2 separate regions of the Homo sapiens genome follow, and region 1 is linked to region 2. The links come from fine-mapping of genetic effects on gene expression. Tissue or cell type: blood mononuclear cells. Region 2 holds a variant in brackets; the other region holds the start of a gene. All regions are shown on one strand. Distances are from middle to middle.

Region 1 (4,393 bases), 44 kb after region 2:
TCTTTATTTATTCCACTTAGTGAGAATATTCATGTTCTTAAATGTAAAAGTACAGAAATATTAATGCATGGAATTACAGGATTCTCTCCAGACTATATTGGAATGGCATGTAACCAGCAGGGTCAACATGTATGTTTACCTTTCTAAATTCTGAGCAATGTCTTTCTCAGTTCTGAAATTTAGATTCTAAATTTTAATTCCAAATTCTGAAAAAGCTTGAATTCCAAAATACGTCTTGGCACAAGCATATTGGATTATAACCATGGGCAAACAATGTGCTAAATAAGTGAAGTTCTACTAAGAAGTCTTCCATTAAAAAAAAGCAGAGAGATTAGACCTGCATTTAGAATATTAAATAGGGGCCTAACAAAGATCAGGGTGATTCATTTCTAAAGTGAAATCTAGCAATAAAATAACGTTTCTACCAATTTCATCTCTCAGGAAAGATAAAGACCTAAAGTATACACCCCATTTTTATCCTAGCTTAAAACTTTCTAGTTATTAAGACTATTATAAAATCCTATTTTATATTTCACTTCAAATACAGAGGCTTAAAAAAAAATCTTCCCACAATCCCTCAGTAGAAAAATCTCTTTTTTCCTAGTGTTCAAATCCAACCTTTTCAAATCCAAGGTAGAAGAGTAAGAGGATAAGACACAAATCAAGTAATTTGATTATAATCTCTCATTCAAATACACTTTAAAGTGCACTTCAAATACAGGGGATAATACAAATCAATTTCTGTTTTAATGCAAGAGTTTTCTAAATACGTTAAAACAAAAGTGCCGTTCAGAACAAAAATGATTTGATAAAATAATTTCAACTGACAAAGATTTCTCACTTAAAACACTTAATAATTTACATGTATTTAAGCCTTTTTGAGAAAATATAATTCTATCTATGCACTGCTCGGACTTTCACTGGGGAGAAGGAGGACATCAATGTATTTAGTTGCATTTAATTAAAATGCTGCCTGTGTGAAGGCAATGAATTTGTCCCTACTAAGACAAAGAAGTCAGATGGTAGAATCAATTCCATTTCTTCCAGGAACTCTTAGGGATTAAATGGTTCCTTTTTTTATTTTTAATACCAAGAATCAGATATGGCACAACATCTTCAACTCTTTTTTTTTTTTACTACACGCTGCAATGCTTTGAACTCTACTTGAGTTCGACTGAATCTTTGCTAAGTCAGGCAAAACTCAAAAAATATTTTGCAACACTGTTTCCAACGTAAAAAAAGATTCAAACTCTCACTTCTCCAATTGTCTTTCTAGTCCTTGAACATTCCAACAAAAGAATGGATTGCATTTATATAGTTTTTAGGTGGGCTTAAGGTTTTGGAGCCACATTGCCAAAAACAGACAAACAGACAAAAAGAAACACCCTTAACTCTTAACTCAAATTTACATTTTACTACATAAAACTTTCTTGCTCTCCAAGTTCATTGGCTAAGTAAATTACTTGACAATGAAAATGTATCCACAAGAGTAATTATGCTAAATTTTAGTAGTGGTTCAGAAGGGTTGTTGTTTGAATGCAACTGCTGTTTCTTTTTGTAGTAAAAGATTTGTCTAAGCTCATAAGACGTCTGGACATTTCTACTTTGAGTAACTTTGATAAACACTGCGGCATTTTCCAGTGGATTCGTGTAAATGGCCAAAGGAAAATGTTCTAGCTCCAAGATCGACTTCCTCGCGCTGTGCCTGATCCCAATCCCGCGTCTCCCGAGGGCCGGGCCGCGACCGCACTTTCCGCGCTCCCTGGGGGCCTGGGCGCCCTGGGGTGCCCGGGTCACTTTCCGCACGGTCTGACCTCCGTCCCCTCCGCCCAGGCCTGAGCCCCTCTCTCCCGGCGCAGCTTCTGGATCCCGAGCGCGGGTAGGTTCAGGAGCGAAGCTGGCGGAACCCACCTGTATTTTATTCACATGGTTTCAGCACTTTTACCTCGGCCGATGAAGGTAGAACAAGAAAGGGCATGAAAGCAGCGCGTCGTTCCCCGTAACCTCCTCTCCTTACCAGAAAGTCCCGGCCGGGTAGGGGACGCGGCCACACCTACCTGCGCCAGGTGAGGCGAGGGCGGGCGCAGCGCGGGGCCACCCGCTCCTCCTCGCTCTCCAGCCGCCGCCGGGGTGGCCTCAGCCGCCGGGCCCGCGGCTCTTCCTCATTTTGGGCAACTTCCTTAACGCGCCCGGGCAGGCGGCCCGCACTTCCTCCCAGTGTCGCGCCCCGCCGCCCTGGCCCGCCCTGCTGACCGCGCCCATGAGCCCGGAGCTGGGCGGGAATCGGCTGAAGCGCCGGGCGAGGCCCGCGGAATCGGCCCAGGCGGCGGCAGGTGTAGAGGAGCCCGGGTGGGGCGCGCCTCTCTCCTCCCGCCGGACAAGGGCCCTTCGCAGGCAGAGAAGGTGGGGCTGCCCGGGACATGGACCGCATCGGTCCCCCTCCTCCCCGCCAGCGCGGTGGCTTCTGTGACTGCCCAGGACCCACAGACACCCAGCGGCCCTTTCCTTTTGCTATGCAGTGCCGGGGAAGAGACTCCACTGCATGGCATATTCCCTGGAGTGTATCTTGGTCACCAAACCAACAAGCTCCAAGCTACTGTGCTGGAGCACTCGGGAGGCCTGGGCAGTGCTGAGAGGGACCCTGTAGGTGAACACCAGACTTCACGGCGCACTAGTGGGCAATGGGGCACGCTGCTTCTGAAGGCTTTAATTATTACAAAAGGCTTTGCTTCCTTCTTACCATGACGGCTCTGACGTCCACAACCAAATAAATTAAACCTATAGCCCTAAGAATGGTTTTGAGATACCCGCCTGATACCCTTCTCCCAACCCATCCCCCTTTTCCTTTTGGACATTCCTCTTTAAAATGTTCCCACAAAACGGCATCCAGACCTTCTTGATAACACTGGTTGGCAGTGCCTGTTTTAAAAAGCTTTACCCTAAGCCAAAATGCGAGAAGCAAAAAAATATATATATAATGTGCTGGATTGTAATTGCCATGGAGAAAATATAGGGATGGGACTATTTACACTTATTGGAGCCCCCAGCCTTTTCTGCTTCCAGGGTTATTGGATTTTCATTCATTTTTGCCATTATTTTTTCTAAACCTGTTAAAAGAAAACTTCAGCAGAATTAAATTTAAAGCAGTTTAATTGAGTAATGAATGATTTGCGAATGGGGCAGCTTCCAGAATCACAGCGGATTCAGAGACTCCAGGGATGCCTCATGGTCAGAACATATTTATAGACAAAAAAAGGGAAGTGACATACAGAAATTGGAGGTAAGGCAGAGAAACAACTGGATTGGTTACAGGTTGGCTTTTGCCTTCTTTGAACACAGTTTGAACACTCAGCAGTGTATGAATGGTTGAAGTATGGCCACTGGGATTGGCCAAGACTCAGCTATTGTTAAAGGCACATACTCCTAAATTAGGTTTTCAATCTTGTCTGCCTATTAAGCTAGGTTACAGTTCATCCACAAGGACTCAAATATAGAATACAGAGTCCTTCTCAGATCATACTTAGGTTGCTTTAACAAACATAAATGGAAGATTTTGATAATGGTTATATTTGCTTATCATTGGACTTAATTTTGCTTCAACTACCCGAAAAAATAGCCATTGTTCCTGAGATGGAGCCTGCAGAATGTCTACAGATGGTTTTCAGAGTTGTCAGCATTATTGGAGATGAACACTAGGGGACCAGTGTGTACAAAGCAAACCCAGCCTGCACAAAGATTGCAGTTTTCTCAGGCTTTCACCTGATGGAAATGAGGGGGAAATTCTAGATCCATCTACAACCTCCTTCCTTTACACTGCTGTGTTCCTTTCCCCCTTTGAGTCACCTTCCGCATTACTTAGTATCATGTAGTAATTTTTTTTTTTTTTGAGACGGAGCCTCACTCTGTTGCCCAGGCTGGAGTACAGTGGCCCGATCATCTCAGCTCACCGCAAGCTCTGCCTCCTGGGCTCACGCCATTCTCCTGCCTCAGCCTCCCGAGTAGCTGGGACTATAGGCGCCCGCCACCATGCCCGGCTAATTTTTTGTATTTTTAGTAGAGACGGGGTTTCACCGTGTTCGCCAGGATGGTCTCGATCTCCTGACCTCGTGATCTGCCTGCCTTGGCCTCCCAAAATGCTGGGATTACAGGCGTGAGCCACCATGCCTAGCCTAAAAGATGGTTCACATTATGTATCATCAGGGAAATGCAAATGAAGACAGTAAGATATCAGTATGGCCCAAATTCGGAACACTGACCGCAGTGAACACTAGTGAGGATGTGAAGCAATAGAAATACTCATTCATTGCTGTTGTGAATGCAAGATGGTACAGCCACTGTGGAAGACAGTTTGGCAGTTTCTTATGAAACTAAACATCCTCTTACAACATGAGTA
Region 2 (4,393 bases):
CATGGTAGACTTGGACTGTATCCAGTATGCTGGCAAACTCTCCCTGCTCTCCACAAGCATACACAACCATATTCAAACACTCACAGTATAACACGCCCACTACACTGCAACAAGGAAGGTTTACACACCCAGCAACAGCCAAGAACCCCAGCCAGGTTCTGTAGGAGATGAAAGGTTGTCAAGAGGTGAAATTGCCAGGTGGCAAACCCCTCCAAGGTGTTTCCTCACACTTTCTCTGTTAAAAACACCATAAGATACCCTGACAAGGAGACTTTCCTGGTGCTCATGATGGAGAAAGAGCACTGAAGAGAGAAGAAAAGCTACATCAGTGATGACCACATGTGCTGTGCGGTGTACGTGGTGTGTATTTTCATTGAATCCTCAAGACAGTCACAGACCCAGAGGAGCAGAGCCTGGGGAAAGTTTCCCTTAGTCTAAGGTTCTACAACCATCATGGGAACATGGGTTCTGAAGCTGGGTCTTGCTGCCCAGGCTTAGCTCTGCTCTTCCCTCTCACTAATACCCTGCCTGATGCCAGGCCTGGGCATGGGGTGCTATGCACCATCAGTCCACAGGTGAGCCCTGCAGGTGTGGAGGGAGCACGGGAAGGTGTGGGACTGAGCTGTGGACAACACAAGGGAGAAAGCCTTGGAAGCTATTATCTGGGAGGTTGGCAATTATGGGGTGATAACTGGACAACTGCAATATAAAGTGGAATAAGAACCCAGGAGAATAAGAACCCAGGAATAAGAACCCAGGAGAAGAAGACAACTAAGGAGAGGGTGCTCGATGAAAACACAGAAGCCCAGGCCCCTCTCTCACAGGCCCATGCCTGGTTAGCTCTGACACCAGCTGAATAGGAAGCACGGCAAGTTTGAGACTCTCTTGCATAAACCATAAGCCTCAGTGTCAGGGACATGTGCTGTGAGGACACATGAGATGTCAGTCTGTACAGGGCAGATAGGGAACAAGGCATGTTCATCAAACAAGAGCTGCACCTCCCAGCCTTCTGCATGGGGTTTATATACATCTCCCAGAAAGGAAGGAGAGAGCAAAAGTCATGGCCATGAAGGATGCAACTGCTGTTTTCGGGAATAGACAACTCCGAAAAAAGAAACAGCTTCGTGGCCAAAGAGGCTATGAGCAGGCTTCTTAACCAGCAGAAGTTGGCCAGCCTCATCGTGTGGATTATGCTATTTTGGGTTGACTTCACATGCCAAGATGCTATGTGCATGGTCCCATGACATTCATGTTGGAAATTATTGCTGAGATGGTAAGAAGCCAAACCTCAGCAAAAATAGCCATAGGTGCCTCCACTGAGGGGCAATGTCTTCCCTCCCCACAGCATTCTGCTGCTGGCTGGGGCTGCATCCCACTAAAGACCATCACTCTAGGCACTGCCGCGTGGCAACCTGGGCCACTCTTCCTTCTTCCTTTTTTTTTTTTTTTTTTAAGAGTATTGTGGTCAATTTTTCTTTTCTTTTTTTCTTTTTTTGAGACAGGGCCTCACTATGTTGCCCAGGCTGGTCTCAAACTAGCCTCAAACGATAGTGAGATCATAGTGAGGATGAAGCGATCCTCCTGCCAGGAGTAGCTGGGACTACAGGTGCGTGCCACTGCACTCAGCTAAGATCATTTTTAAAATACAAGGTATGACAGTGAAGTCTGAGGAAATTCCTTTGAATAGATGGACAGGCAGAGAAAACGCTTCTAAATCTAGGAAAAGTTTACGAAGTCGGCTGGGGATTCACCAATTGCCAAACCATGAGGCTGCATCGCTGTTTCTGGTTATGTTTCCAAGGTAAGCATCTCTGTAGGGACACTGAGAGGTGACCAGGGGATCATTTCCCCCAGGGACAACTGCCCCACTGAGCCACCTTGACCAGACCCCCTCGAGGGAACAAGGTTGACACCTCCCAAAGACAGTTCTTTACCTTCTCTGGACAACTGACTGACCACGTTGGCCTGTATCTCAGAACCTTCTACAATTTAGATTTACACTGAACCACTGAGGATAGCAAACAGAACCCAGGATTCAGACAGACCCTCTAATGACTGTGGGCCTAAGGCTGAAGTCTTCAAACCTGCACT[C/T]ACCACTCATGGATGCTACTCCCAGGAACTTTTCCTTAACATCTTTCCTGTTGGCATCTTGTTTCATGTAAAATAGAAGTAAAGTCTGAGATCAAGGGGGTAGTTTGAGTAAAAAAACTGCAGTATTTTAATTTTAGTTGGATAACCACAGAATGTGCTATGCAACCTATAATTTGCCATTAAAAGGAGAATATGGGGCTGAATCACATTTTCTTTAAATATTACATCCCTCGGTGCCCAAAAAGAGTGTTCATTTTAGAGTTAGACTGGGCAAAATAAACACTGGGTCACAAGTGATAGCTTTGGTTAGAAATGTCTTTAGAACAGGCCAGCATGCATGTTGTCAAATGGCAATGCATGGCCTCTTCCCAGGGTCATGTGGGGCCAGTCACAAGGAAGCTGAATTATTCCCAATTGTCCACACAGGCCTGGTGGCAGGAGGTGAGGGGGAAGGCACGATACTCACAGGAACTTTCCATTTGTCTTTGATCCTATCAGGACAATTTGCTCAGATTCTTCCCGAGAGATTTTTCCATGGAACCAAGGCATTTTTTCATGGGCTGTGGTAGCGATCAGCTTCTCCAGCTGAGGCTTCTGACTGATGATGGCCTGCTCCAGAGCCTGACCCTGCCACATGGAGAGCAAAGCAGAGTAAACCATACCGAGGAAAAATGAAAATGATGCAGAAGGCATTTCCAATCTATCTCGAGTCCTGGCATGGTAAAACAGGATCAAAACTTATTCACTCATTCATTCAGTAAATAAAACCAGAAAGACCTTTACACATTACTTAAGTACTTTCAAGTGTATAAATAAAAATAACATGGCCGGGCACGGTGGCTCACGCTTATAATCCCAGTATTTTGGGAGGCCAAGGAGGATGGTTCACTTGAGGTCAGGAGTTCGAGACCAGCCTGGCCAGCATGGTGAAACCCCATCTCTACTAAAAATACAAAAATTAGCCAGGTGTGGTGGCACATGCCTGTAATCCCAGCTACTTGGGAGGCTGAGGCAGTAGAATCGCTTGAACCTTGGAGCCAGAGGTTGCATTGAGCTGAGATCATGCCACTGCACTCCAGCCTGGGTGACAGAGCAAGACTCTGTCTCAAAAAAATAAAAAATAAAAAAATAAACACACATATCCTTTGCTGTGGCAATCCCAACCCTTTCAAAGTTTATCCTGCAGACGTTGCATACAAGTGTAGTATACGATAGGTCTAGAGCAATGTTGTTAGCAGCGTTTATTCATAAACAGCAAATGTGTCCATCAATAGGTACTAGTTAAATAAATTGTGGTGCATAGCAGGTGATACCAGATAGCCAAAGAACGGGTGATGCAACTATATGAGTGTTGACACAGAAAGTTCTGCAAGAGATATTAGGAAGCCATAAAATCAAGTGCCTATCAGTGTGTATGGTAGGACCTTGTCAGATAAACAGAAACCAATCAACACCTATCAATGCCTCTCTGAAAAGGCCCTCCTTGCACTGGGTAACAGTGGTTCCCTGCTGTGGAGAAACCCACACTGCTGGCACAAAGGGACCCACCCTCTCAGCTGTGGCTGTGAAAGAGGAAAGGCTCTTATCAGAGAGAGGCATTTTTTGGCCAAAATTGATGCTTAAGGAGATGGTTGTGTTATTTGGGCACACAGGGCACATAGGCACATGTGTTGCATGTAGCCAGGAAGTCTGTGTGGGGTCACAGGGCCCCCTGGGCCCAGGGAGCAGGACCAGCTGTGGCCCACCTGCAGGTTCCATGTCTGCTTCACATATTCCCTGATGAGGTTTTCCTTCAAATCCTCAAAGGGCCCAGTCTTGGGCTGCACCCCTTGGGGCCGGTTGAAGGGCTTCTTGAGGAGGCAGACCAGGCCATCAGACTCCTGGGAGTGGTAGTGGCAGAGGTCGGCGGGGCTGGCATGGGTCCTGCCACCGGCGATGGCGTAGGTGCCATTCAGCTCCCGCTCGATGGTGTAGTGGTGTGCCTTCCTCCCGTGGGCCACGGACAGGGCGAAGCCACCCAGGTAGTTGCGGCTCTGGCGCAGCAAATAAAGCCCATCACTCATGCCCCCCTGGACCAGGTAATCTTCTGCCTCCTCCCGGGTGATGTTGCCGAAAAAGAAGGGCAGGTGGTTGGCGCTGTCAGCCATGCCGCTGCTGGCCATGCTTCAGGGGCCGGAGGGCACACACCTGCGCAGGTGTCCACCTGGGCAAGACAGAGACAGAGAACTTTGGTGAGGACCCCACGTGGCAGGGAACGTTTGCTAAAACCACTCAAACCCTTTCAAAGTGGAGACAAACCCTC

Evidence for each region. PIP is the estimated chance that this variant, and not a neighbour inherited with it, causes the effect.
Region 1: it holds the start of SYK, and the variant in region 2 is fine-mapped to the expression of SYK in blood mononuclear cells (TOPMed, PIP 0.97). The same link has a PIP of 0.9 or more in whole blood.

What each region holds. Positions count from the first base shown.
Region 1 is chr9:90,799,558-90,803,950 of GRCh38, reverse strand. SYK (spleen associated tyrosine kinase) reads right to left here and starts at 2,132. Exons shown (of 14, transcript NM_003177.7): 1 at 2,058-2,132. RefSeq lists silencers at 1,994-2,153, 2,174-2,383.
Region 2 is chr9:90,843,759-90,848,151 of GRCh38, reverse strand. SYK (spleen associated tyrosine kinase) reads right to left here. Exons shown (of 14, transcript NM_003177.7): 2 at 3,837-4,294; 3 at 2,558-2,718. The coding sequence starts at 4,253. Among named protein-coding and RNA genes, the nearest start is that of SYK, 44 kb to the right of the region's middle. The variant C/T (reference allele first, on the strand shown) is at 2,092.